4 linked regions of the Homo sapiens genome follow. The protein of the gene in region 1 purifies or fractionates together with the protein of each later gene. This does not show direct contact. Each region holds a gene or a part of one and is shown on either strand. Other genes may lie near its edges. The genes, in order: SPCS2, PACC1, TMEM87A and TM9SF4.

Evidence for each region.
Region 2: the proteins of SPCS2 (region 1) and PACC1 purify together in Homo sapiens (co-immunoprecipitation; one large-scale study listed by IntAct). This does not show direct contact.
Region 3: the proteins of SPCS2 (region 1) and TMEM87A fractionate together in Homo sapiens (co-fractionation; one large-scale study listed by BioGRID). This does not show direct contact.
Region 4: the proteins of SPCS2 (region 1) and TM9SF4 fractionate together in Homo sapiens (co-fractionation; one large-scale study listed by BioGRID). This does not show direct contact.

The regions. Positions count from the first base shown.
Region 1 is NC_000011.10:74,975,618-74,980,459, reverse strand, and holds the end of SPCS2 (signal peptidase complex subunit 2), read right to left. Parts: intron 3,604-4,842; coding exon 3,417-3,603; 3' UTR 1,427-3,416; downstream 1-1,426. UniProt on the Homo sapiens protein: Component of the signal peptidase complex (SPC) which catalyzes the cleavage of N-terminal signal sequences from nascent proteins as they are translocated into the lumen of the endoplasmic reticulum.
Region 2 is NC_000001.11:212,375,250-212,380,457, forward strand, and holds part of PACC1 (proton-activated chloride channel), read right to left. Parts: intron 4,789-5,208; coding exon 4,646-4,788; intron 2,458-4,645; coding exon 2,313-2,457; intron 1,636-2,312; exon of another isoform or gene 1,545-1,635; intron 52-1,544; coding exon 1-51. UniProt on the Homo sapiens protein: Chloride channel gated by pH that facilitates the entry of chloride ions into cells upon exposure to extracellular acidic pH. Involved in acidosis-induced cell death by mediating chloride influx and subsequent cell swelling.
Region 3 is NC_000015.10:42,230,279-42,235,486, forward strand, and holds part of TMEM87A (transmembrane protein 87A isoform 1 precursor), read right to left. Parts: intron 3,029-5,208; coding exon 2,935-3,028; intron 1,638-2,934; coding exon of another isoform or gene 1,566-1,637; intron 983-1,565; coding exon 914-982; exon of another isoform or gene 844-913; intron 1-843. UniProt on the Homo sapiens protein: Potential monoatomic ion channel gated by mechanical force, implicated in normal touch sensitivity through the generation of mechanically activated currents.
Region 4 is NC_000020.11:32,112,133-32,117,340, reverse strand, and holds part of TM9SF4 (transmembrane 9 superfamily member 4 isoform 1 precursor), read right to left. Parts: intron 1-5,208. UniProt on the Homo sapiens protein: Associates with proteins harboring glycine-rich transmembrane domains and ensures their efficient localization to the cell surface.

The sequences.
Region 1 (4,842 bases):
CTCCAAGCTGAGGAGGAACTTGGGTCCAGAGAAAAACACAACTTGTGTGTATGCAAAGGGACTTTGCATCTTCTTCCATTCCCCGAAATTGTTCTGAAGCAAAGATTGTTTCTACACGTATATAAAAGCATGACAAACATTAAATACATATTAGCAGTTGAAATTTGCAAATAATGAAAAAACATTAGGATCTTTTTCCACTGTCCTCAGTGGCCCTCTATTTTCTAGAAAAAAGTCCGTCTGAGGTAAGTGTGAGGAACTGAGAACTTCACTCATGATGATGTGATGGGTGTCAGGGTTTCCTGGTGGCAAGGGTGTTGCAGACCTACTAGAGGGTACAGAGCAGCCCAGCAGCCTTCTGGACTGGGCTGAAATGGCCACTCAGTAGATGCATGTGTCAGAAGCTGGCCAGAGGCACTCTGCAGCTCTACAAAGTGTGCCCATGCTGAGGCTTGAGCCTGCAGAGGGTACTTTTTGTTCATGTGATGAGACACTCCTAAAATGCCACAAGTGCAAAGACAGGGGACCAACTGCAACATGTAGCTGGGCTGATAACCCACTTCTTCAACAAATCTAAACTGCTTCAACTGGTTTCTGGAGTCAGGGAAAAACCTTAAAATAGATCCATGTAGTCCAAGAAGTCTCCAGTGAGCCTTATAGGCAGATATTGGGGATATGGCACCCAACATTCTTTGTAATCATAAGGGATGTTTTTTATTTCCCAGGGAATAAGGAGTCTTCATAATCTCAAAATACATTCTCTAAAACTTTTTTTTTTTAACAAGAGACTTCACCCTAGAAAAGGAATAGGATGTATTCAAGGTCACAAATTAGAAAAAAGTTGCTAACAACCCAGGTTTCTTGTCTCTCATTTGAGGACCTATTTTCTTCCCCTCTCCTCAATCCATACTCCTTCCTGGAATAGTGAAAAAAACTGGGGAAAAATTATCATCAATAGGGTATTAAAGTAAAATCACTTATACTATGGAATATTATGTAGCTATTAAAAATGAGACTGACCTATGTGTATATATATATAGGGGTTATCACCCCAGCTACTTGTTGCAATTGGTCCCCTGCCTTTGCACTTCTGGTATTTTAGAACAGTTTCTTTTATATATATGTATGTCAGACTCTTTTTTTTTTCTTTTTTGAGACGGAGTTTTGCTCTTGTTGCCCAGGCTGGAGTGCAGGGTGTGATCTCGGCTCACTGCAACCTCCGCCTCCCAGTTCAAGCCATTCTCCTGCCTCAGCCTCCCAAGTAGCTGGGATTACAGGCATCTGCCACCATGCCCAGCCAATTTTTTGTATTTTTAGTAGAGATGTGGTTTCACCATGTTGGCCAAGGTGGTCTCGAACTCCTGACCTCAGGTGATTTACCTGTCTTGGTCTCCCAAAGTGCTAGGATTAAAGGCGTGAGCCACCATGCCTGGCCTCAGACTCATTTTTAATAGCTGCATTATACACACACACAGGGAAAATGCCTAAGATATATTAAGTTTAAAACACAAATTACAGGACATATATCAACATAATTCAATTTTTGTTAAAAAAAATGTATGTGGAGACACATGTTTGCATGCACATGTAAAGAAAAAGGCACAGTGGGGGAACTCTAAGGGATCATCATGGAGAGGGTTATTCAGTCTCTATCTGCAAGCCTCGAGACCCTTGTGTCTAACAGTACAGTTGGCCCTCTATATCTACAGATTTAACCAACCATGGATTAAAAATATATTTTAAAAAATAACAAAAAATATAAATTAAAAAACCAATGCAGTATAACTATTTACATAGCATTTACATTATATTAGGTATTATAGGTAATCCAGAGGTGATTAAAAGTATATGGGAGGATGTGTGTAGGTTATATGCAAATGCTATACCATTTTATATAAGGGACTTGAGCATCCTTGGATTTTGGTATGCTTGGGGATCCTGGAACCAATCTCCCACAAATACCAAGATGACTGTAACTCCTCCATTGTAAAAATACACTTATCCGGTTACATGCTTTCAAAAACTTTAAGAAGCTCACAGAGAATTCCGAAACTTACCCAAGGTTTACAGGAATGAAGAGTACAGAATCCAAGGCTTTAACTTTCTGTCCAGTGTTGTTCACAATTCCCTACCATGTGGTGCGAGATAGGACAACCTCTCCAAGACAAACAGGAAATGTGATAATGGTAATTTCTTACAAACTGAATATAGTGTTGGGTACTAGGCTCAGCCAAAATTGATGTTTTGTAAGGCTGTAGGGAAATATTCCTAAAGGTCAAAGGATCTTGGCAAGCACCCAGGTCTTCTCTGACCATACTGGGAAAATACTGGAAAAGCGGCTGTTTTGTCTCTGCAGGACCACAAACTCTGAAGCCGGACTCCCCAGGTTTGAATCCCAGTTCTATCACTAGCTGTGTGACAATTATTTAACTTTTGTATCTCAGTTTCCTCATGTGTAAAATGGGGATAATAACAGCACCTGCCTCTTAGGATTGCTGTGAGCATTATTAACACATGTAAAGTACTTGGAGCATTTCTGGCACAAAGTAAGTACAGAATGTTGTTATTATTGTTATTATCACTGGAAAGCTAAGAGTTCCTTAGCTACAGGTTCTCAGGGGCCTTTGACAAGTAAAATAGCCTAAAAATGAAAAAAACCTATAGTAGAAAGATGTTAACACTTGTTTCTCTGTTCTCTCCATCAAAACTATGACTCCATTTTTTTCACATCTTCCTTCCTTTTATTGAAAAAAATTTTAGAAAATGGCAGTTAATAAAAGGCACAAACAAATCAACAGGGATATACTAGTGGAAAACACAATATAAAACTAAAATGCCATTGGCTTCTTTAATTGGTTAAAAGCAAAAATGTAACAGGCAGAAAGTCTGTTTCAAACAAATTAAAAAGCTATGTGTTTTTTAAATTCTTCCCAAATCAGATATATACACACCCACAAAAATAGTGTGTGAAGGAAAGCTGTCATACACAAGAAGTTGTATCCTGAATTCTTCAAGGAAACACATATTGAAATAGGAATTAAGAGTCAGCAACAGATTAATAATTTTTTAAAATTGAGTCTTAAAATGCTACATGGCCCAAAGCTATACTATATAAAGTACTGCTAGGTACAAAAGAAAAAGTCTGTACAGCTTTTAGCAAAACTGCTTTCCCAGAAAAGCAAATTAAAATAATGCAATCAGCAGATCAAGGAGACTACAGCTAGACATCAGAGCTACAACTTCTCATATCTGTGTCAGAAAATCCTATTTACCCAGAATAGACTAAAATTTCAGGACAAAACAGGGACTTTTTAACATTTCTTACTTTACCCATTTTAAGTTCTTTTTATCTCCCCCACCCCCCAAGCCACTAATTCAGCAAGATCCAGGAGAAAGAGGGCTACTTTTAGAATTGGCTACTTTATTTTTCTTTCTATGGCAAGACTGTCATGGAGCCTGGATATTTCAGGCTCATATGCATCCATGACCAGTGTCCCACTGTGGTCAAAAAACTTAGCAATGGACTTTGTGAACTCGGCTTCCCGCTGCTGCTTTGTTCTCCCACTGATGAAGGTCAGCTTCAAGGTGTATTTGTCATCAAACCTAAGCATGGGGGCAAAGATAACAAATTAAAAACCAAACACAGAGATTCAACCAGTAACAATACGGCACCAAGTGTTTCCGAAGAAAAGGAGTAAGCTGGGCACGGTGATACAGGGAACAAACACATCCTTTAAAAGCAAAAGCAAAAACAAAACCCCAGGGCTCCTAACTTTTCAAGATACTAGTTCTGATTCTTAGGTGTTGACATATCTTTCCTACTTTAATTACTGTGTACCTCCTTTACCTTGTTGTAGACTTTTAAACCACGTGGACCATCTTCTCTCATCTCTGGACTTCGTATTTGCCATGCTAGACAGGTTTTCCTCGCAGACTCTTCTCCCCTATCTCACCTGAGAAGTTCTTATTTGTTAACACTATACTTGGGCATAAACTTTTCTGGGAAAGCCTACCAATCTGGGTCAGATGTGTTTCCTCTGTCTTCCACAGTACCATCAATCAATACTCAACTCAAATACTGACCTCCTGTCATATGCCAGGCCTAATAATAGGCTCTTATGGTATCAACAAAATTACCTATCTGTTGACATGATGTGTACTACTTTCTTCACTAGACTGGGAGGTTTCTTTTCCCTTTGTTTCTGGTGCTTGAATCAGGATTGTCTAGGAGATTCTTGAGCAAAGATTGTTGTCTTAATTGCTTCATACTCTTAGCTGGGCTTCTAGTAGGCAATCAAATTTTTATAAATAAATGAAGAACCCTTGCTTTCAAGGATGCTCTCCAATCCCGGGGTGCCTAGTCCTTGCACTCTGTAATCAATCTAGCTCCAGGTTTTACTCTGATCCCAGGCCAGGGATGCCAACTGCTTTACTAAATGAACTCCAGAGATTCCTTTAGCTATACTTCAAGGTACCCTGAAGGCCATTACTATGTCCATTCATTCAAGAGGGTTTAATGACACCAATTACTGGTAGGCTGACATCCCCCACCCTGTTTCCATTTATTAGGACATATTCAGTGGATTGTCAAGCTAGTATTATCTTTAAATGAAGCAGTTTCTTGAGGCTCTATTTCTGCATGTTTAAAATGGGAGAACTTCCACCTGCTTTCAGGATTACTGTCATGACTAAAACAGTGTCTATCATTAACTAGTGCTCAAAAGGTCACAGCTCCTCAATAATTGTTGGTCTAGGCAGTAACTCCCAACTTGGAGAGCTAGTAGTGAAGTTCCTTTAACTATTTTCAACACCTCAAAATATTTTCTCAAGTTCTGACCAACT
Region 2 (5,208 bases), on another chromosome or scaffold:
AGCACTTTTTTTGGCAGCTGGCCTCTGGTCAATGTAGTTAACCACACTTGTCTAGATGTGGAGGAGAGAAAGCAGTGTTACCACCTCTGTGTGCCCTTCCCTTGCCTGTGCCCAGCGAAAGGAGAGAGAGTAGGCAGGGGATCATAGTCTGTGGTTCTCCTCACACTATTTTTTGGAGAGAGAGTGGCAAAAATCTCATATATACAAGATCCTGACATTGGTAGCAAAGCCAAGGCTTTACCTTGGTTTCCACAGTTCTCTGGGGAAATGGGATCTGTGATTTACAATAGGTGTTTTGGATTGTCACTGAAATTTGTCACTAGGTATCTGTACTCACAATTAAACCATATTCAGGCCAGGCATGTTGGCTCACGTCTGTAATCCCAACACTTTGTGAGGCCTAGCCAGGCAGATCACCTGAGGTCAGGAGTTTGAGACCAGCCTGGTCAACATGGTTAAGCCCTGTCTCTACTGAAAATACAAAAATTAGCCAGGTGTAGTGGTGGGCGCCTGCAATCCCAGCTACTCAGGAGGCTGAGGCAGGAGAATCGCTTGAATCTGGGAGGCAGAGGTTGCAGTGAGCCGAAATAGTGCCACTGCACTCTAGCCTGGGGGACAGAGCAAGACTCTGTCTCCAAAAAAAATAAAATATTAAAAATAAACCATATTCAAACTACCATGTAAGACTCACAATTAAAAGCAATAAAAATTCCAAATTTCAAAGTACTTGGTTTTCAGATCAAGTATTTCTCTGAATTTTCAACGCTTGTTTCAACCCTTCAAGTTTACAGGGACAAAGCACAGCTGCATAGATCCACACAGCTGAGCATTCCCTGTAAATACTTAGTAGGTGTGCTTGGTGAGATCTGGTTGTCAATTACTAAAGACGCTGTGTGGTGTAACGGAGAGCAGACAGGTAACAAAGGCAGAAACCAGCTCCACCCAGAGGCTCAGATCCATCATCGAAGCTGAGCCTCAGCTTTGCCACCCACAAAGCTGAACAAAATGCCTACGTCACTACAGTATAGGGGCATACCTATGTGAGAGCACTCTAAACTCTAAAATGTGATTTTAAAACACATTTTTTAGTTTTGTTCAAAAGAGCTCATAATGCCAACAAAAGACTTCCAATTTAGACAGTAATAAAAGATGCTAAAATTTCTTTAATGTACAGGTTCACTAGAGTTTTCACCCTTTGGTTTCGGATCACAGTGGGAGCTATCAGAAAATCCAGGGTAGATGGGGTTGAACTTAATTGTAAGGTAAGTGAACACAGTCTCCTTCCTCAGAGCTGCTGTGGGGCCAGATAAGAAAGGACTTGAATTTCTTGGAGCAAATTTGGAGGTAAAAATCTGGGAGATGACAGTTATCTTACAAAACAGGAAGATTTTAAGGTCCAGTCACCAGGAGGGGTTGTCACTTCCCAAGGCAGGAAAAATAGCCTTGCTTCCTTGAAGAAAACTGGCTTTGAGCCTCTTCCAAGTAACCAGCCTGGACTAGTCTGAGGAGCTAGGGCTCATGACAGGGCCCTGTTTAAGACTAACCCAAGACAGTCTTCTCCGGCCTAACTTCTGGCCAGTGATGGCCTAGTTGACTGGAGTGTGTCCTTCTGCTCCAGATGAGCATCCCGAGCCACTGGGATACAAGAAGAAAAGACTAGCTTTTTTTACTATTTATTTTTATCTCATCCTTTTAACATTTCTATTTTTGAATGTTTAAAGTGTATATAACACTAAGACAATAATAGTATGTTATATCACCTGCAGAGTTATATGTATATGGAGTATATGATCAAAAAGTTTTTACTAATGGGAAATCTGATCAAAAAGCTTTCAGCCCACTGGCCTAGCAGCCAGGAGATACACCTGGCATCTCTCGCTGTGACACCTGTGAGAGCTGAAGAGGACCTTAGGAAAAGGATCAACATGCACACTTGGGACCACTGTGTCTAGTCTCTCTTCCCTGCAAATAATCAATCTGCTAGGCCACTGCCAGCCCCTCAAAGTGCTGCTAGATGCAAGACATCAGACACAGCTGGGCGAGTTACTGACCTCTCTGCAAGCCACAATGATCTCTGCCCCACACATGCATTCCGTGAGGACTGGCCGGTATGTGCGCTGCCTGCAGAAGCACACACAGACTCCCTGGCATAGCATATGAAGCCCTCCATGGGAGTCCCTTCTCATCCTGACCAAGGCCTACTCACCCTTAAGGCCCTGCTCAAAGGAGCCTTCTCTGCAAAGCTTCCCTCCACCTCAGACTCGAATGTGGAAAAGTCACCAGCAGTTTCAAGCAAACCCAGAGCCACCTACCTCCTGCCGGAACTCCACTGCTTCCCGCCCATCCTCCTCCTTGGTCTTTACCAGTGACATCTTGACCCAGGTGCGGAAGCCCCCAGAGAACTTCCAGCTGGAATAGGCACTCTCACAGGCCTGCATGAAGCCTACCCTGTTTGGGCTTGGAGGAAGGAAGGAGAAGGAAGATCCAGGTCAATGCAGGTCTGGCAGCAGGAGTCGAAGCCCCCACTGCAAGCTGGTTTCTTTGCTGGCACAACCAGGATGCTGCCCACTCCCTGCCTCCTCTCCAAATTGTGATTGCCTCAACAGGGCTGTCAGTCACCAGCAAAAGCAAGGCCCATCCCTCTTTTCTCTCCATTTGGTTTCCAAATGGAGGGGTAGTCACTGGCCTCAAGGCAGGAACATGATCCTTGAAGCTCCCAGTGGGAGAAATCTTCCTCCCTCCTCCCATCATTCCTATCGATGGCTACCAAAGCTGTCGGCAATGAAGTTGGCAGAAGCTCCCCAGAACATGGCGCTCACAGCTCCTCAGAGAACTCTGGACTTCAGCAGAGCCTGAGGAAGCCCTCACCAGCCTGTCAGCTCCCATGGAAGGCCCAAAGAGGGGAAGAGGGTTCCTTGGGGAGGTCTCAGCCAGATGGGTCACCTACAGCATCAGCCCCAAGACGGTGCAGATGCAGCAAAATCAAAGCGAACATAAAAACAAGTAAAAACTGCAGCAGCATACCGAGGAAGCTCACGAAAGGAGCGTGGAGTGGGGGTGGGATCCCGGGGAAAGTCTTCCAGGAGGAAGGCAAGATGGCCAGCTTGAAGCAGGGAAGGGAGAGGGAATTCTAGGTGGCAGAAAGGGTGGAAAATGCTAAGGCAGAGGCTCCGAGCTCTGGGGTGGAAGAACAAAGCAGTGGTGGTGTGGAATGGAGGCAGCTCGCTGCATGTCCAGCTGGGGAGCAGCCTCCCTGCCCCTGTAGCTGCCTCCCTGCTTGCTCTGAATGGAGCCTCTGGGCTCAGCAGGACCTGGTAGGAACTGAGTCCCTCTCAACTCAGGCACATGAAGAAAATTCTCCTGCCCTCTAGGCTCCACGGTGTGACCCCAAAGCAGTGTGTGTGGAGCAGACAAGAACTTTCTGATGGTCAGGGGACATTCATCACTGTAAATCGAAGACTAAGAGAGGTGGCAGAGCTTATATCCTCATACCAGAGATGCAGTAGACCCTTGAACAACACAGGTTTGAACTGGCTGGGTCCACTCACGTGCGGATTTTCTTTTGCCTCTGCCACTCCTGAGACAGCAAGACCAAACCTCCTCCTCAGCCTACTCAACATGAAGGCGATGAGGATGAAGGCCTTTACAATGATCACTTCCACTGAATGAATAGTAAGTATATTTTCTCTTCCTTATGATTTCCTTTTTTTTTTTTTTGGAGTCTCGCTCTGTTGCCCAGGCTGGAGTGCAGTGGCGCAATCTCAGCTCACTGCAAACTCTGCCTCCTGGGTTCAATCGGTTCTCCTGCCTCAACCTCTTGAGTAGCTGGGACTACAGGTGCCCGCTACCACGCCTGGCTAATTTTTTGTATTTTTAGTAGAGATGGGGTTTCACCATGTTAGCCAGGATGGTCTCGATCTCCTGACCTCGTGATCCGCCCACCTTGGCCTCCCAAAGTGGTAGGATTACAGGTGTGAGCCACCACACCTGGCCATGATTTTCTTAATAACATTTTTTTTCTCTAGTTTACTTTATCGTAAGAATACAGTCTATGATATATATAACCACGCAATATGTGTTGTTTATGTTATTGGTAAGGCTTCTGTCAACAGTAGGCTGTTAGTAGTTTTGGGGGTCAAAAGTTATACACAAATTTTTGGCTGCATAGGCAGGAGTGGTTAAGTTTGGTAACCCCAAACCCCAAGTTGTTCAAGGACCAACTGTATTTCAGGCAAACATACATTAAGCCCGCACTAAGGGCAAGATGTGGTTCCTGTGCACACTGTGGGGGAAACCAAGGAACCACACAAGAACTTGCTCTCAAAGGGACTTACAAATCAAAGGCAACTTCCCCTACTCCTCAGCAGCCCCAGGCAATGGTGAGACCAAATGATCTCTCTAGAACCAGCCAGCACTATGTGCATGGAGAGCCAGCATGCTCCTCCACACCAGATTTGCTTAACTTTGTGATAAGATGTTGAGTGGACCGGCCAAGCTCATGAGGTCCCTTCCTGGGCCAGTGGGTCATCTGAGAATGCCCCTTCCCTTCCCTGCCCTCACCCCTCCGTCTCTAGCCTTGGGACATACACAGCTGGAATAAGATAAAAAGTAGACAGTAAGCCCACTGTGAACTCTAAAAGCCCACCTTTGCAGGAACTCCTGGAAAGAAGAGAAGAGGAGGTAATCAATGGCGCTGAAGTCCTCACTACTCTTGTTCAGGCGGAACTGGAGGAAGACCAGCTCCCGCTTTTTCACTTCCCGGGGCCCCTGGACAATCAGGGCAGATTTCTGCAGAGAGAAAAAGGACAGAGTCTCAGTCCTGGGAGAGTACACAGAGGCCTCTGGGTCTGAGGGCAGAAGTACTGACTGGAAAGCCCATAGCTCCTTGCCCAGTGGTCTCCAAAGGGACCACTAGCCAACAACAGGACTGGGCTGGGACTCATGCTCATTCCTGGGGAGTTTTCCCCATATGATGCCCAACCAGAGCTGAATGCAGCTCATCCTCTGTCCACTTTTCTCATTGGTTCTTTGAGTTATGGAAGCTCTTAATTTAGCAAGGATGATCACTTTCATCTGTTATGTGTGCCAATCTTTTCTTCCAGTCTGTCATTTTTCTTTTAACTTTGTTTCCAATGTCATTTGTCCTATGGAAACTTTAAATTTAACGTAGTAAAACCTTAAATCCTTTTCTTTACGGCTTTGGGTTTT
Region 3 (5,208 bases), on another chromosome or scaffold:
AACACTTAGAAAGATACTAATCTAGAAAAGCTTTGGCTATTTAGTCCAAGGACACTTTAACTGAAAACTCTTATACAGCAACCCACTCAAATTCACAAAACAATTTTGTTTACATTCACAGTTTTTCAACAGTCACAATCTATCAGGTCAGTAATAATGAAAACTGCTAATAGGACCAAATATATAAAAACCAAAACAAATTCAATAAGATAAAGTCCAAAAACTTGAATCCTTTAGCCATCAGGCCAAGCCCCTAATATATAAATTTAATTTTAAAGAGCAGGAGAAAAAGATTGCTCAAATAGAAGCTTGTTTGTTATCTGCTGGTTGACTCTGCCTGTAAATGAATCAATTATTTATTCTGAAGGGTGGAAATCTTCAAACAATTCCAAGCCAGCTTTTGAATGAGGCAAGAAAACACTCACTCCATAAGGGTTAAAACCTGCTGAACATACAGAGTTTCAGAAAAGTCAAAGCACCTTACATAGTTCCTGAAATCAAATTTTAAGGATCAAAATCTTTTCATAAGTTTCAAAGCATTTAAGAATTGCTAGAGGCTAAAAGGCAGAGCAGGACCAGCACAGCCAGTGACTCTAACACTAAATGATTAGGTACACAAACAAGAAGTGCAAAATCAAGATGAAATGCTCACTTAAAAGAAAAAAGCCAAAAGATTTTATCTCGAGCTCGGTCCACAGTCACCAATTTCCAATTTGATTTTTAAAATTAAAAAAATAGAAACAAAAAAAACTGCTTACCTGAACCCTCAGGTTGTTAAGACTTAGCATGCACTGTTCCCCACACTAAGGAGTAATTAACAAAACTGATAAAAACTCTTTGCAGAAAGATCAATGGAAACCCATCTCAAGGGGAGAAAATGGACCATCATCAAACAAGCCAATGAGAAGGATATCCACCAGCACAAGGCAGTGTCTAGGAAAGCCAAGGGGATAAAGGCCAAGGAAGCAAGATCAGTCTGGGCCTGCAGACAAAGAAAAAGAAGTGGTGAAAAACAGATGTCTAGAGAGGCACAGAGAAGAAACCACCACATGATTCTGCATTTACATAATCACTGGAAAGTTTTTGCATTGAACTGAAAGAAAATAAAAAGAACATTTGACACCTAATCATTCTTCCCTTCTTATAAACCATCACATAGAATATACAGCTATAAGCATTTCACATAAATTGTCATTTACAATCTCGAAACATACTGCTAAGTACGAGTTTTTCATATATAAAGATCCATGTTAACAAGTGACCATATTCCAAAAAAGTTCTAATGTTTATAAGCCCCATCCTTAATCTATCATTTCCTATTATTGCAATTTTGGCTACAAGTCTGAAAAGACTTTTCTCGTATTTAAAAAAAATTACTGCATCATATACAAAGAATTATTAATTTCTAAAATTATAATATTTTACAAATAAGAGCTCACCCCAAAATAAAATGTAAGGCAATTATCTGTCTGAAAAACTATGCTGCATGTTTCCAGGAGTTTATATAGAGTATGTTTTTTATATAACCCTAATTACCCAATCAACAGGCATTACTGAAAGGATATCCATAAAATAACACAGGCGTCAATTGCTGAGAGGGCCAGGTTTACTATCAGAGTCAAGGGATAAGAAAAATACTATAGCAACAGCAGAAGAAAGAAAATGAAATTGACAGAGGGTTAAAGTTGCTAGAAGTCTAAGAGAATTACATACAGAGGACAGTGTGATTTGAAAAGCAAATGTGCATCCACAAAGTGTTTGATTTAAGAGGCAATTTATTGCAAAACATATTGAGCCGTTTTCTTGTGGGCAAAGCCAAGTTTATAGTTTTTACAATATTGAATCTAATAGGTTGCTGTGGAGTCTTTTTTTAAAAAATAAGAAAATTAATTGAAATGGCCTAGAGAACCTTATACTTCTTCGTATTAATCCAGTGGTAACATAAATTTCTTTTCTCCTCTTTTTTAAGGAAGAGGTATCACTCTGTTGCTGGAGTGTAATGGCATGATCATGGCTCACCGCAGCCTGAACTCAATCAGTCCTTCCACCTCAGCCTCCCAAGTAGCCAGGACTACAGGCACCCACCACTGCTCCCAGCCATAAATTTCTTTATCACTTAGATTCTTTGGTTTCCTTCCCTGGCAAAGGGAATAATTATACAATTCTCAAAAATGGTGTGAAACTTCATTAGCTGCATTTTTTTTTCTTTTTTTGAGACGGAGTCTTGCTCTGTCGCCCAGGCTGGAGTGCAGTGGCACGATCTCGGCTCACTGCAAGCTCCGCCTCCCGAGTTCACACCATTCTCCTGCCTCAGTCTCCCAAGTAGCTGGGACTACAGGCGCCTGCCACCACGCCCAGCTAATTTCTCGTATTTTTTTTTTTTTTAGTAGAGACAGGGTTTCACCATGTTAGCCAGGATGGTCTTGATCTTCTGACCTAGTGATCCGCCTGCCTCGGCCTCCCAAAATGCTGGGATTACAGGCATGATTACACACCCAGCCTCATTAGCTGCATTTTAAGGAAGTTTTTGAAACTGAAATGTTAAGAAACAACAGTTACTTTAGATTAGATTAACTAGTAAGTGTATGACTCCAAAGTCTGCCATTTACACAAGAATTTCAGTCTGGATTTCAGTCTGGATTCCATTGATTAGAAAAAGAAAAAAAAATGCAAGTCTACTGCTTGGGAGGAGGAACTAAAACAATTAGCAATTTGGAGACAGGTGGAAAAGCATTCATTCGGGCACACACTAAATTTACAAAGCTCTAATAGATTTAAAAGAGAACATGAACTATACATATATTTTGAAAATCAGAGCCCAAAAGTGACTTAAAGCAAACAGAAAGAAGCCCACAGACATTTCCAATCCACACTGTCAAGATGTAAACAATATAATTGAACTGACCACAGAAAATGAGATTAAGCAGTACTAACCCCAGTAACTCTGAGGACCCCTTCCATGCCAGAGAACAAAAGATAGAGGGCTCCTGCTACTACAACCTTATGAAGAGTGACTCCAAGGCGTGGCCTAAAGAGGAAGCAAGGAGATATTTGAGTACATATGGGACAAATGCCGAAACAAGCTAAGTAACAGGAACTTGTGTTAATTAATATAGGCCAACAATTTAAAGCAATAAATAATATACACTTGATTCACCTAAGAGAAAAAAACTAAGACCTTATGGTCTTAAAACAAGATAGGGAACACTACAACTTGAGATCTTGTGTCTGGTTACCACATTTTAAAAAATGTTTCCTCAGAGAGTTTTGAAACATATTCACAAGTAGTATAATGCACCCTTATAAACCCTTCACCAAGGCCCAACAACCACTAACCTATGGTCAGTTTTGTCCCATGCATACCCCATCCCCTTTCCACCCTTTCATATTCTCTTGATGCAAATCCTAGACAGTATATCTTTGATATATTTCAGTATGTGTTTTTAATAAATGAGGACCTTATTTTTCTTTGGTATTTCAATGGCTACAAAAGGGCCTTTCTTTTTTTCCCCTAAAGAAACAGGGTCTCACTCTATCGCCCACGCTGAAGTGCAGTGGCCCAGTCACTGGAGCCGTGAACTCCTGGGCTCAAGCAACCCTCCCACCTCAGCCTCCCGAGTAGCTGAGGACTACAGGCACGTCCCACTACACCAGGCTAATTTTTTTTTTTTTTTTTGATGTTTTGTAGAGACAAGGTCTCACCGTGTTGCCCAGGCTGGTCTAGAACTCCTAGGCTTAAGCGATTCTCCTGCATTGGCCTCCCCAAGGGCTGGGATTACAGGCATGAGCCACTGTGCCTGGCCCACAAAAGAAACTTTTAAAAAACATCACCAAGATACCACCATCAAATCTAAAAATTCTAACGATTCCTTAATATAATCAAATATCCTATTACGGTTCATTAAATAGTATATTTGCAAGCTCGAAACCTAATATATGAAAAGTCTTCTGAGCAACTTCTGTTTGAAGGAGAAAAAGTCTTAACTCCTTGAGATTCAAAATCCTACACAACCAGAATCCACATGTTAACAAAATCCTTAGGTGATTCCTTAGTGTAGTGTAGTTTAAGATGTGCTGCCTTAAATCATGTCTGCATAGGCCTTACCAATATTTGTTCTTATATTTTTTGTTATACATTGGGGAAAACTCCATATGAGCAGGGAATTTTCTCCCCATTCATCTTGGAAACCTAGAATACTTCCTGGCATATAGGAGGCACTCAAATAATTGTTAAATAAATAAGTTTTAAGAATTAAAATTCCCCATATCTCTAATCCCATTTAAAGCAAAACTCCTTTAATTGAATAAACAAACTTAAAACAACTAACCTTAATCCTACTTAAAGCACTATAAAGTGATGCTATAGCATTACTTAATCCCACTTAAAGCAAAATTCCTTTAAATAATTGTCTATACAATTATTCTAATTCCTCTCCTCCTATACTCTCTGGAACTCTCCCCAATTAGGCTTTTGTCCCTATCTCTTCACCAAAACTATCACTATGACCCTCCATATAGGTAAACTCAATGGCCAATTCTCACTTGACCTATCAGGATCTCTTGACACAATCACTTCCTCCTTGAAACACATTCTTCAGTTTTCTACCCACCTCACTGGTCTCTCCTCAATTTCTTCTGCTAACTACTTCATCTTACAGACTTCTAAATAATATTAAATATTCAAGGGCCCAGCCCTTGGACCTCTTCTCTATATATACTCACTTCCTTGGTGACCAAATCCAGTCTCATGACTTTATTTATTTATTTATTTAACTTTGGAGATGGAGTCTCGTTCTGTTACCCAGGCTAGAGTGCAGTGGCATGATCTTGGCTCACTGCAATCTCCGCCTCCAGGGTTCAAGCGATTCTCTTGCCTCAGCCTTCCAAGTAGCTGGGACTACAGGTGCATGCCACCACAGCCGGCTAATTTTTTGTATTTTAGCAGACACAGGGTTTCACTGTGTTGTCCAGGCTGGTCTTGAACTCCTGACCTCAGGCAATCTGCCCGCCTTGGCCTCCCAAAGTGTGAGGATTATGGCGTAAGCCACCACGCCTGGCCTTCATGACTTTAAATAATATCTTTATCTTCATGACTCCCAAACTTTTATCTCTGCCCCAACCTCTCCCCTTTGTTTCCCCTACTTAGTTATCTAATTCAACTCCAATCTTGCCCCTGCTCCACACTTATTTCACCTAAGGTCTTCCTGA
Region 4 (5,208 bases), on another chromosome or scaffold:
TTTTGGTTCCTGTTCCATGCCTTTCCTACTGCAAAAGCAGCATTTTCCTTAGCAATAGACTAGATTCTTCTTTTTCTTTCTAAAAGACAGTCACTTTTTTTTTTTTTTTTTTTTTTTGAGACAGAGTCTAGCTCTGTTGCCCAGGCTAGAGTGCAGTGATATGATCTTGGCTCACTGCAACCTCCGCCTCCTGGGTTCAAGTGATTCTCCTGCCTCAGCCTCCTGAGTGGCTGGGATGACAGGTGCCTGCCACCAGACCCGGCAATTTTTTTGTATTTTTGTAGAGACAGGGTTTCGCCATGTTGGCCAGGCTGGTCTTGAGCTCCTGACCTCAAATGACCCACTCCGACCTCGGCATTTCCCAAAGTGCTGGGATTACAGGTGTAAGCCACTGTGCCTGGCGACAGTCACCATTTTGAGACCATGTCAGTAACTGCTCCCTCAGATTAAGCAAAAAAAAAAAAAAAAAAAAAAAAAAGAAAAAGGAAAAAGGAGGAAAAAAAAAAAAAAGAAAAAGGCTTTGGGCACAGTTTGCCAACAGTTAACTGAAGTCAATTATCCAGTCAGTTAAAGCTTACCAAGAATCCAGCCGCATGTGAATGAAGGCTAATGACAGCTAGAGACAACTTACCAAGCAGGCCCATGGAACTAAAGAACTCACAGAGCAAGAAACAAACAAACAAACAAACAAAAAACAAATTAGCCACAGGAAACTGAAAATGTAGCCTTTATTTCAGAGCCCACAGACACAGAGTAGCTGTTGAACAGAGACACATGAAAGACTCAAAGCTGTAATTTGGGGGTAGGGAAAAACGCACAGCAGGCTGCACTGCGGAAGTCCAGGTGAAACTAATAACCACCCTCACGAAGCAACAGGCAACCAGACTTCAACCCTGACACCACCAAGTGCAGAAACGTACTGCTCTCCTGTCTCCACCTTGGGTATTTATAAAAGAACTCTCAGCTAGCCCAAGCAGCAGGCTTAGATAGCTCACCACGGGAAGACTTCAAACCTTGGAGTAAAGTTACAGAGTGCCCTCTCTGTGCTAGCACTTTCATCTCATATTTCATTTAATCATCACAACAATCCCTTGAGAATATCATCCTTGTTTCAAAAATGAGATGATGAAAAAGTTCTGGAGACGGATAGTGCTAACAGCTGCATATGTGTAAACGTACTTAATGCCACTGAACTGCACACTTAAAAATGCTTAAAGTGGGCCAGGCATGGTGGCTCATGCCTGTAATACCAGCACTTTGGGAGGCTGAGGCAGGTGGATCACCCAAGGTCAGGAGTTCGAGACCAGCCTGGCCAACATGGCGAAACCCTATCCTTACTAAAAATACAAAAATTAGCCAGGCGTGGTGGCACATGCCTGTAGTCCCAGCTACTTGGGAAGATGAGGCAGGAGAATCGCTCGAACCCAGGAGACAGAGGTTGCAGTAATGCACTGAGCTGAGATCGCACCATTGCACTCCACCCTGGGCGACAGAGTGAGACTCTGTCTCAAAAAAAAAAAAAAAAAAAAAAAAGCTTAAAGTGGTAGGTTTTGTTATTACCACAATAAAAAATTTTAATATAAGGTAATTGAGGCTTAAAAGCGCAAACGGTTTTCCCAAAATCACATAACCAATCAGTCCAAAGTCACAAAAGTAATCACAGTGTCAGAGCTGGGAGTCTAGCCCAGATTCTCAGACCAAGCATAAGAGGATTTCAAACCCTGGGAGGTCTGTTGGTTTAAAGCATCAGGCATAGGTGAGAAACCATGTTAGGAAGGGAGAGAAGGAAGCAATGAAAAGGAATGAGATGGAACTGAGAAGTCCTGGGTGTCCCCATCCATGCCCCATTTGGGAAACTCTAGTGTCAGCAAATGGTTCAGGGATCAAAGCAGGCTTGAAGGTGGTAGTGGCTCCTATTATTCATCCGTGGCCAGATGGCTCTTCTCATCCTGGGTCCTTCCCACCTTTTTGCCAGTGCCCAGAGATCAAAACTCAGCCTTCTCCAACATTCTCTGACGTGCTTCTTTAATGCCAAGATCAAAGGGAGACGTTTGTCCAAGTTGTAAAACAGAAACTAAGAGGCAACTTAATGTGATCCCAACCTCCTCTGTACTTCCTGAGGGGGATTAAGGGCATTCCTTTAAAGGGACCCCTCAGAGAAACACATTTAACCAAGGCCCGATGTCAGCACCTCAGCTCCAAGGACACAGTAGCTCCTGCAGAACATGAGCCAGGTGGGGAAACCTGGGTGATCAGACAGACAATACAACCAACACAACAGCTTGGAAAGATCACAGTGACCATCATCATGGAAAAAACAAAATAAGTCTGATTTTATAGGCATATTAGCAAAACTCACCTTAAAGTATTCCAAACTACAAAATTTTCAACTCAGAATTTGGAAATCATCAAGTACAAACCTTAATTTCACACATGACATATGTGGAAAACAGACTAATGAAGCCAAAGTAATTTGCCCCAGGCCACACAATGCATCAGTGGCAGCGCTGGGACCAAGCCCAGGCTGCTGGCTCCTGCTCCAGCGTTCCTTCTTCAGTCAGCTCATGTCCTCCTGTACATGGGGTCCAGAGGAGACAGCAACTTCCTGCACACAAGACTGATGGCACAGTTCAGGCCTCTGGCCTTCTGTTCCAGGACTCTATCATCCAACCTGATTAGCACGCTATTTCACCATTAAAAACAGTTTTTGCTGGGCACAGTGACTCACACCTGTAATCCCAGCACTTTGGGAGGTCAAGACGGGAGGATTGCTTGAGGCCAGGAGTTCAAGGCTAGCCTGGGCAACATAGCAAGACCCTGTCTCTAAGAAAAATATAATTAAAAAATTAGGTGGATGTGGTGCGTGCCTGTAGTCCCAGCTACTCAGAAGGCTAAGGCAAGATGATCGCCTGAGCCCGGGAGGTGGAGGCTGCAGTGAACTATGATCGTGCCACTGCACTCCAGCCTGGATGACAGAGTGAGACCCTGTCTCAAATAATAATAACAAACAAACAAAACCAGTTTCTGTGCCTTTGACTGGGGCTGGAGGGACTACTGGCATTGGCTCCATTAGCACAAAGGAATCTTGATGTCATTTATTCCATTCCTGTTTCTGGAGTGGCTCAAACCCAAGTAACCTCAAAACAGTGTGAACTGATGCAGGAATACACTTCCATACACCCATGGAAACTGAATGTATGTTCACACAAGAACTTACACCTGAATGTTCACAGCAGCATTATACCTAACAACCAAAAAGTGAAAACAATCCCAATATCCATCAACTGATGAGTGATAAACAAGCTGTGGTACATCCATACAAGGGAAGATTCAGCCATAAAAAGGGATGCGGCACTACTGATACATGATACAACATAAACAAACTTTGAAAACATTATGCTAAGAAGCCAGACACAAAAGATCACATATTATATAATTATCTTTGTATAAAATGTCCAGAATAGGCAAATCTATAGGGACAGAAGGTAAATTAGTAGTTGCCTAGGGCTGTGGGGAGGGAAGAGTAGGGAGTGACTCTCTTTTTGGGGTGATGAAATGTTCCGAATTACACAATGGTGATAACCATCACATTTAGTGTATGCACAACCTATAAAAACACTAAAACCCACTAAATTATATACTTTAAAGGGGTGAATTTTATGGCATATGAATTATATCCATAAAGAAGATTATAATAAAAACCAAAACAGTATGAACAATGATGTGAGGGAAGTAGAGTTTTATTCTCCAAACTGAAGTTTCTAGACTCCTGACACATCTAGAAATGTACTCAATGGACATTTCCCAAGTTTCAATGAAATAATATTCCCAAGAACCGTTTTCCATAAAGAGTGAGACATGAGCCCGCATCTCAATTCAGACCTAGCTAGATCAACACTGTATCCTGTAACTTTACAGAGTAGTCTAAATCTAAGGATGGAAGAAGACAGGAAAATCAAAGAGAACTTCAGTTTACACCAGCTATCTTCTATGGAGGGAGAAGTCTTGCCCTGCGGGTTCAGGAAACACCCTCCATACTGACATTGTTCTGGGAGCTGGCGGCTCAACCCTTGGGGAAGAAGAGCCATTCACCAAGGAAAGAGAGAAAGGGAAAAGCTCACATGCCACCGCACTTGCACCCACAACCCTAACTTTCAAAACAAAGGACAAACCAGCAACCCAGCTATTCCCACGGCCACTGGATCCACTAGTTCAGTTCCTCTTTGGCTGTATGACTCACCTCAGAGACCCATACACTCCAAAGTAGGTCTACCGCACCCCCTCGCCCCAATGGTTATGAAATGAGGGTGTGTATGAGGGTGTGGGGACTATTCTGACTTCCGTGTAATGAAGTGCTGACACAGACCAAACTCAAGCCTGTGACTCCACTTTGCCCCTTCATCACATACCCCTGTAATAAATTTGCTTCCACACCTTTTCACTATTGCACCAGATATGAAGTTTCTCCATATGCACCCTTTAAACTGGCCTCTGTGGGTCACTGCATATGTTACATACTCAGTTTCTTTAAATCAGTTACTGTTTTCAGTACAACACTCCCAGGTGGCACAACAAACACTAAATCACCGTACTTGCAGGGTTTTGTTGGTGGTGGTGTGTTTTGTTTTTTGTTTTTTTTTTTTTTTTGAGATAGGGTCTCACTCTGTCACCCAGGCTGCAGTGCAGTGACACGATCTTGGCTCACTGTAGCCTCCGCCTCCCGGGTTCAAGCGATTCTTGTGCCTCAGCCTCCCGAGTAGCTGGGATTACAGGTGTGTGCCACCACACCCTGCTAATTTTTGTATTTTTAGAAGACAGGGTTTCGCCATGTTGGCCAGGCTGGTGTTGAACTCCTGGCCTCAAGTGATTTGCCTGCTTCAGCCTCCCAAAATTCTGAGATTACAGGCATGAGCCACTGCTCCCGGCCTGTTGTTGTTTCTTAAGACAGGGTCTCGCTCTGTTGCCAAAGCTGGAGTGCAGTGCAGTGATCAGGGCTCACTGAGGTTCAAGTGATCCTCCCACCTCAGCCCCGCAAGTAGCTGGTACTACAGGTGCACACCACCAAGCCCAGCTAATTTTTTCTTTTTGTATTTTTTTTGTAGAGGGGTTTGCCATGTTGTCCAAGCTGGTCTCAAACTCCTGAGCTCAAGCGATCTCCCAGCTTTGGTCTCCCAGAGTGCTGGGATTACAGGTGTGAGTCACTGTGCT